Linked DNA regions of Homo sapiens: region 2 is linked to region 1. Evidence: fine-mapped expression QTL. A gene starts in region 1. The other region holds a variant in brackets. All regions are shown on one strand. Distances are between the middles of the regions. Region 1 holds the start of IGDCC3 (immunoglobulin superfamily DCC subclass member 3). Region 2 has its middle 19 kb from the start of RNU5B-1.

What was found.
Region 2: its variant is fine-mapped to the expression of IGDCC3 in cerebellum (GTEx, PIP above 0.99). The same link has a PIP of 0.9 or more in cerebellar hemisphere.

The regions. Positions count from the first base shown.
Region 1 is chr15:65,376,058-65,380,431 of GRCh38, reverse strand. IGDCC3 (immunoglobulin superfamily DCC subclass member 3) reads left to right here and starts at 2,430. Exons shown (of 14, transcript NM_004884.4): 1 at 2,430-2,746. The coding sequence starts at 2,644.
Region 2 is chr15:65,321,379-65,325,748 of GRCh38, reverse strand. No RefSeq gene overlaps it. Among named protein-coding and RNA genes, the nearest start is that of RNU5B-1, 19 kb to the right of the region's middle. The variant A/G (reference allele first, on the strand shown) is at 2,531.

The sequences.
Region 1 (4,374 bases):
GCCTTCACAAACACCCTTGTGTCTGTCCGTTAATGCAAATGTGCACACAGTCTCACACACAAAACTCCACACTCACACCCCACACACATCTTGGCATCACAGTTGGCAGCTGCTGTCTGCTAAGATCTTTACAGAGCCCGGAACATGCTTTCTATTGGAGGGAATCAAGAGCTAGAGGCTGCTTTGCTCAGGACCACCCCCAAAGTGGTGGGCCAGACCCAGAGTTAATTGACAGATCAGACAGAGAGATACTGCACATTTTGCACTCGGCAGAATAGCCATTATTTGCATATCACTCTCAGACCAAGGGTTGTGATAAAGAAGAATTAAACACTTGTCAAAATGAATTTAAAATGACAGCAATTCAAGAGACCAATTTGACCTCTTCAGAGTCCAGGACAAGCCAAGAAGGGGTTGTTGAGAATTCAAGCCCTGCAGGAGGGAGTTCCAGGATTTTAGGCCCAGGGAGGGCCCTTCCCCTCCCTTTCCTAAGGCCAGTAGACCACCACTCCCACCCTTTCTCACAATGAAATCCAATAGGGCTTTGGCACATTGGAGTCCTCCACCTAGAATTTTTCCATTGCTTCCCGCTGTTCACATGCCTCATGTCCTGCTTCTCAGGCTCATCTTCCAGTAGCTGCCCTAGAGTGAACAGTCCTGAGCTATGCCAACCTCATCATTAGTAAACCTGTCCATCTACAGGCACTCTGATTTCTGGAGGCCTGTACTTCCTTACTTATCCGTATCAAAGTTAGTTTTTTGTTTGTTTGTTTGTTTCGAGACGGAGTCTTGCTCTGTCGCCCAGGCTGGAGTGCAATGGTGCAATCTCAGCTCACTGCAACGTTTGCCTCCCGGGTTCAAGCTATTTTCCTGCCTCAGCCTCCCGAGTAGCTGGGATTACAGGCGCCTGCCACCACGCCCGGCTAATTTTTTTGTATTTTTAGTAGAGATGGTGTTTCATCACATTGGTCAGGCTGGTCTCGAACTCCTGACATCAGGTAATCCACCCGCCTCAGCTTCCCAAAGTGCTGGGATTACAGGCGTGAGCCACCGTTAGTTTCGTACATGGTCCCAAAGTTCCAGAGTTGGTATCAAAAGAAAGACTTAGTTTTTCCTCTGCCATCCCAGTCCAGTGCCAAAGGAGCAAATAGCTACATTAGGCCAACTTTTATTATTTATTTATTTATTGAGACAGGGTCTGTGTTGCCCAGGCTGGAATACAGTGGGACTCCAGGCATGCACCGCCATGCTTGGCTAATGTTTGTATTTTTTGTAGAGACAGGTTTTCACCATGTTGCCCAGGCTGGTTTTGAACTCCTGGGTTCAAGTGATCTGCCCACCTCGGCCTCCCAAAGTGCTGGGATTACAGGTGTGAGCCACTAAGCCTAGCCTGCCAGCTTTAATTCTCTAGCTCCTAGAACTTAGTAGCTGCTCAATAATTTTGATGGACTAGTCCATCATGCTGGACTCAACAGAAGACCATTTAATAGAGAGTGGCTGAGATTCAAGATCTCTGAGGGCTAGTATGGGTATGTCTCTGCTAAAAGACATGCTTATCTTCTGTAACATTCTCACGTGGGACCTCTGTTGTCTCCTTATATGTTCTCTGACATGAACGATTGAGGGCCTTCTTTGTGGCACAGAAACGTTACTGGGAATTTTAACTTTCTATGTGCTTTTCCAGTTACCAGGTCATTTGTCAGGACCTCTGCGGTTTAAAGGTCTCTAGGGATGAACAGGAGAGATAAGATTATTTTCATCTTTCAGATGAGCTCAGTGAGAGTGACTGGGCTAGGCAGCAGGCAGAACCCAGGTCGGAAGCCAGGCCCCTTTAGAGCTCTCATTGTCCTGCTGCTGGGTCTGCTCTCTCCAGGCAATCCTCCCCAGCGGAGCGCCAGGACTCCTCGGTCCAGAGAAGCCAAGCTTGCAGCTACAGGATCTATCCTTTGAGTGGAAGGACCAGAAATCCATGGAAAACTGAATCTTTGACAACTTTACGCAGCTTTTTAGAGAATTATCTCTAAAATATGGACTTGGAGGAGGGCGCAGCAGAAAGAGTGGGTCAGAGCAAATCCCGCAGCTGTGTGTCTTTCCGCAGCCCGGACCCACTCCCCAGTCCGCTGGTGTCCACTTCCTCAGCCCCCCAGGTCCCCGGCTGGCCCGCGGGGAGGGGATACCCGGCTGCAGCCCGGGACGGCGCCGGCCGCTCCAGCCACAGTTCAAAGCGCAGGGGGCGCGTCCGCCGCGCAGCCGGGAATGTCCGGCCGCTTAAAGCGCTCGCCGGCTCTTTTGTTCCCCAGACCGGGCCTCCGGGGAGAGGGGGCTGGGGGAGGGGACCGGGAGCAGAGAGGAGGGGGGCGGCGGGCTGGGGAGGAGGGCGGGGCGGCCGCGAGCGGTGCGAGTGTGGAGCGCGCACCCCGGGCGAGGCTGACAGATCGCCCGGGTGGGTGCAAGATGGCGCAAGCGGCGCTCCCCCTGCGCCCCCCGCGCTGCTGAGCAGGCATGCGGCCCCAGTCCCCCACCGCCTGGGCTCGGCCCCGGCCGGAGCCCCAGCCCCGGCCCCGGCGCCGGCCCCGCGGGACGCTGTGAGCCGCGAGAGGCCCGGGAGCCGCGCGTCGCCGAGCCGAGCTGACCGAGAGCCCCATGGCTGTGCAGCGCGCCGCGTCTCCGCGCCGCCCGCCCGCCCCGCTCTGGCCCCGGCTCCTGCTGCCGCTGCTGTTGCTGCTGCTGCCCGCGCCGAGCGAGGGTGAGTGAAAGCGCCCCGGACCGGGCGGTTGCGGACGGAGCCAGGGGAAGGGCGAGCAGGGAGGGAGCGGGCGCGAGGGGCGGACCCGGGGAGAGCGGCGCGGACCTGAGGGCGGACCCCGCGCGGGGGGGACCCTGCGGATCCGGACGGGGAGAGGGTACCAAGGCCGGACTGCTGGGGGCCCTAGGGGCGTGTTGAGGACGGAACCCCCCGGAGGAAGACTGGGGCAGGACCCGGAGCCCAGACTGAGGAGCAAGGAGTGCAGCGAAGCGGGAGCAAGCGGGGCGGGCTGGCGTGGAGACCGAGGGAAACGAGCCAGGGGAGACCGCAAGGCTAAGCGCTGACCGAGGCGGACGAGCTGGGGTGCTGGGTGCCCGGCCGTGGACATAGCCCGAGGCAGCCAAGACAGGGGACAGCAGCCTGGGGAGCGGAGACCGGGACTCTGACGGCTGCACTGGGCGGAGATGGCACGACCTGCATTTGGAGCTGGTACTGGGCTGAGGAGTGCGCGGGAGAGACAGGAGAAGACGAGGGAGATTCCTGGAGGGCGGCGCGTGGCTAGGGAGCGACCCGGGACAGAGCCCGTGAGCCAAGAAGGAGAGGAGAAGCCACCGAAAGCGAGAGCGAGCGAGCCGCGGGGATGCTCACGTGCCCCTGCCCTTCCCCGAAGTGTGCACACGCGGAGACCTTGCCCTGGCTCTCGCGGTCCGCCGGTTCTGCTGCCTGGAGCTCGGCTCTGCTGCCTGGAGCTCGGTCACCACCACTCTGTTCCCTTTAGTGGCTGCAATGGTCCCATCTCCCGGGAGGAGAGTGCAAATCTAGTCCCTTAACCCTCCCACCTCAAGTTCCCCACAGACACTCATCTGGGCTATTCTCTCTCCACTCCTCTCCCAAGAAGTAGAAGCTCGCGTCCGCATCAAGGAAAAACTTTATTCCCGACAGCTATACCAGGGTTGGATTCGGGGCTAAGACGGGTGAACTCACGACATGGGGAGGATGCGCAGGGGTTTGAATAAGTGCGATCCTAAAAAGTCTTAAAACATTACATCTTCCTGGGCCGGGGACGGGGGGAGGGGGGCGCGGGGGGCGCTGGGCGGGGAATGCCTATAACCCCAACGCCCCTCCTTTCTCCCCACCCATTTCCCCATCTCCCTCAGCCAGGGAGGGCCCTAGTCTGCTGGGGAGGGGCCAGCTCCAGGATCGCTAGTTATCTGGAAATGTGAGGAGGGGTCTGTGACTGCCATTTCAGACCAGGTGGGTTCATTCCTCCTCGAGTGGAGTTGTAACTGGTCTGGTAAGTTGTTTGCTGGAGAAGTTGGTGACTTGGCATCATGCCTGGGATTGGAGTGCTTGTCCCTCCAGCCGGGCTTCTGATTCTCTGATTGGCCTTAACCCCATCTATTCTTTGGCCTCCTTCTTTTCCTGCTCATTTCTCTTCTGCAGGAGCAGAGAGGTTGGCTGGAAGTAAAGGTTCTAGGAGCACCCTCTTCCTTGGTTTTGGGAAACCATAGTTGGTGTTTGCTACTCTTCATCTCTCCCTATGACAAAGGCAAAAGGACCAACACCCAGAGTGCCAGAGGAGAGGGGCAATGGGGCCACAACCTAGTCTGTACCCCGGGTACTGGGAC
Region 2 (4,370 bases), 55 kb after region 1:
GTTCAAGCAATTCTCCTGCCTCAGCCTCCCGAGTAGCTGGGATTATAGGCACCAACCACCATACCTGGCTAATGTTTTGTAGTTTTGGTAGAGACAGGGTTTTGCCTTGTTGGCCAGGCTGGTCTCAAACTCCTGACCTCAGGTGATCCACCTCCCTCAGCCTCCCAAAGTGCTGGGATTACAGGCGTGAGCCACTGTGCCGAGCCCATGTTGGATTCTTGATGAAATTTCACTTGAAAGCAGGATTGTGATCCTAAAAGAACATCTGAAGGTACCTGGCCAGGCACTTCCAGAAGAGGCCTGTGGATAGCTGGGCCCGAGGTCAGGTCAGGACCAGTGACGGTGCTAGGGATGCTGAACCAGGCAAGAGAGCGCTGAGGCCTATAGGGCGCCTATCCTGAATCTCCAGGGAGGTTGCTGACTTTCCCTGATTATCCCAGGAAAGAACTATCTCAAATATAGATATAAAACTCTTTCTTTACACGGCACTTTGCACACATAGATGTTTTAACAACTTCAGCCATCCAAGGGCAGCCTGGGGAGGTGATTGTTCAAGTCAACCCTGTGGGGTTGGGGGAGTAGACAAGTAACATCCAGTGCCCCTGTCCCTTCTAAGAGTCCCAGATGGGAGGTGTCTGGAAATGTTTAGAAACCACAAAATGGGCCAGGCGCAGTGGCTCACGCCTATAATTCCAGCACCTTGGGAGGTCAAGGTGGGCAGATCACCTGAGGTCAGGAATTCGAGACCAGCCTGGCCAACATGGAGAAACCCCCGTCTCTACTAAAACTACAAAAATTAGCCAGGCGTGGTAGTGCATGCCTGCAATCCCAGCTACTCGGGAGGCTGAGGCAGTAGAACTGCTTGAATCGGGGAGGCAGAGGCTGCAGTGAGCTGAGATCATGCCACTGCACTCCAGCCTGGGTGACAGAACGAGACTCTGTCTCAAAAAAAAACAAAACAACAACAACAAAAAACCCCACGAAAATAAGGCTGGGTGCAGTGGCTCACGCGTATAATCCCAGCATTTTGGGAGGCCGAGGCGGGTGATCACCTGAGGTCAGGAGTTCAAGACCAGCCTGGCCAACATGGGGAAACCCCATCTCTATTAAAAAATACAAAAATTACCCAGGCATGGTGGTGCCTGCCTGTAATCCCAGCTACTCGGGAGGCTGAGGTGGGAGAGTTGCTTAAACCTGGGAGGTGGAGGTTGCAGTGAGCCGAGATCACGACACTTCACTTCAGCCTGGGCAACAGAGCAAGACTCTGTCAAAAAAAAAAATAAAAATCCACCAAAATATGATCATGCAGATATATGCAAATTGTATACAAAACACAAACAAATGTAGGCAGGGCCTGCCCTAACCATCACAAGTCTCAGCCAGGCTTGGGTAGATGACAGAGCAGGGTTCCAGTGAGGAAGGTTAGCAGAAATAGGTGTCAAAGCTGAGTGGCCTGACTGGAATCCAGGTCCTGAGATCTCAAATAGCCCAGAGGCCTCAGGCTGAAGAACCCCGTCAAACCTCACTGTCCCCCACAAACTATCTTTGGGCAGAAATCTGCCACAACCAAGGCTGCAACCTGTTCCAATCATCTAAGGCTCTGTAACAAACAACCCTAAACCTTTTTTTTTTCTTTGAGACGGAGTCTTTCTCTGTCACCCAGGCTGTAGTGCAATGGCATGATTTCTGCTCATTGCAACCTCTGCCTCCCGGGTTCAAGCAATTCTTGTGCCTCAGCCTCCCGAGTAACTGGGATTACAGGCCCACACCACCACACCAGGCTAATTTTTTGTATTTTTAGTAGAGATGCGCTTTTGCCATGTTGCCCAGGCTGGTCTGGAACTTCTGAGCTCAGATAATCTGCCTGCCTCGGCCTTCCAAAATGCTGGGATTACAGGCGTAAGACATCACGCCTGGCAATTTTTTTTTTTTTTTTTTGAGACCAAGTCTCACCCTGTCACCCAGGTTGGAGTGCAGTGGCGTGATCTCCACTCACTGCAACCTCCCCCTCCCAGGTTCAAGCGATTCTCCTGCCTCAGCCTTCTGAGTAGCTGGGATTATAAGCACCACCATGCCCAGATAATTTTTTGTATTTTTAGTAGAGACGGGGTCTCACTGTTTTAGCCAGGATGGTCTCGATCTCCTGACCTCGTGATCCACCTGCCTCGGCCTCCCAAGGTGCTGGGATTACAGGTATGAGCCACCATGCCCGGCCTTTTTTTTTTTTTTTTTTTTTTTTTTTTAAGAGACAGGGTCTCACTGTGTTGCCCAGGCTGGAGTGCCGTCAAACCTTGGTGGTTTCACATCACATTTATTTGGCTTACAAATATGCAGTCTGGGCAGGGCTCAGGGGCAGCTGTCTCTGCTCCACTCTGCATCAGCGTGGGCAGCTTGAAGCCTGGGGGCTGGGATCCCCTGAAGGCTCCCTCCCTCCCGCGTCTGGTGGCTGATGCTGGCTGTGAGCCCAGCACCTCCACATGGCCTCTCCGTGTGGCCTGGGCTTCCTCACAGCATAGTGGCTGGGTTCCAA[A/G]GACAAGCGTCCTGAGAGAGAGAGCCAGGTGGAAACTGCAACATCATTTCTACGCCGGCCCAAGTGACACAGCATCACTTCTGCTATAGTCAGCTCTTTAGAACAAGTCGCTAAGGCAAGCCACATTCAGGGAATTCAAGGGGAATTAAAGTCTTCTTTTCAATGGAGAGTCAAAGAATGTATGGACTGTTTTAAAATGACCACAGGGGCCGGGTGCAGTGGCTCACCCGCCGGGGAGAATTACTTGAGCCCAGGAGGTGAAAGTAGCAGTGAGCCGAGATCATGCCACTGCACTCCAGCTTGGACTATAGAGTGAGACTCCATCTCAAATAAATAGATAAATAAATAAATAAAATGACCACAGGGCCACTCCGGAGGGACAGGTGGGGAACAAATATGAGCCAGGAGGCAGGGAGGGGAGGAAAGCTTTACCCCATGGCCCTGGGACTGTGCATGAGGCTGGTGGGGACACAGCTGGGGACGGCAGGAGACAGAGGGTGCCCCGAACTCCTATGGGGACACTGGGGCTGGACACAGGGAATGAGTGAGTGGGGGCAGCTAAGGCTGGGGGCCTGCCTTAAATTCTGGGTTAAGGCTTGAGTCAGGGAGGGGAACAGCTAAACCCATGGTCCTCTCTCAAAGAGGTATTAGAGGGCTGGGCACAGTGGCTCACTGTGTAATCCCAGCACTTTGGGAGGCCAAGGCAGGAAGACAGCTTGAGGCCAGGAATTCGAGACCAGCTGGACGACATGGCAAAATCGTCTCCACACAAAATTTAAAAATTAGCCAGGCATGGTGACACATGCCTGTAATCCCAGCTACTCAGGAGGCTGAGGTGTGAGGATCGCTTGAGCCTGGGAGGTTGAGGCTATAGTGAGCCAAGATCGTGCCATTGCACTCCAGTTTGGGTGACAGAGGGAGAACCTGTCTTAAAAAAAAAGGTACGAGGGGACTTGGGGACTGATCTGAGGGCTTTGTTGCTCCCCTGAGCCCCCCTGGAGCTACCTTGGAACGGAGAGGGAGCAGGGAGAAGAAGGGGCTGAGAGGAGGCCGAGGAGGAGCCTGGCTGGCAGAGAAGGGAAGGGCTCCTTGGACTCAAGAGGGATGGACACTGAGTTCCCACAAACGTGGATGGCCCCTTGGTCACCGTGCACCACGTGCCACCACCACAAGGCAGGGTTGGCCCTGGCTATTACTCCAGAATAGCCACCCTCTGACCAGGCTCTGCTCCCCACAGCTTCTCCTCGTCATGGTGCCTCTTCCTGCAGATGTCTCTCTCGCTCTCTGGAGGGGCTTCCTTCCCCGAGGCCCAGGATGCCCTATGCTGCATTTTGTCTCATTGCCTCAAAAGCTGGCTCCCCATTATGTGGACTTGTGCTGCCAGCACTTTCTTCATAACCACTGAAGGAATCAGAGTGTCTAACTGGGAGTACTGGGGACACTGTCACAAAGCTACCAAGAAAGCATACTTTGGTTCAATCCCGGCTGCTATAGTAGTGTCTTGGGTCAAGAATTGGAGAGTTTTGTGCCTGGAAGCTTGAGGTCATCTCTCCCGTGGCCAGCAAGTCCCCAGTTATTGGGCTGAGGCTGGGGTGAGGAGAACCAGAGCCCCAGCAGGATCAGAGAACAGTGAGGTGTCTCCTTCCATGCCTAGCTGGGGTGTCACCTTATATGGGGGACCTTCTCCAACTCAGCTGGTGGCTATGCCTTCAGCCCTTTGCCACCTGGGAGCTAGTACAGAGCTCAGAGCCAGTGCCCTGCTATTGAGAGCAACGAGCTGTCACTGTTCCCTGTCTTCTAGTGAGAAGCATGGCACCCTCTGGAGCTAAGAAGGTGGTGG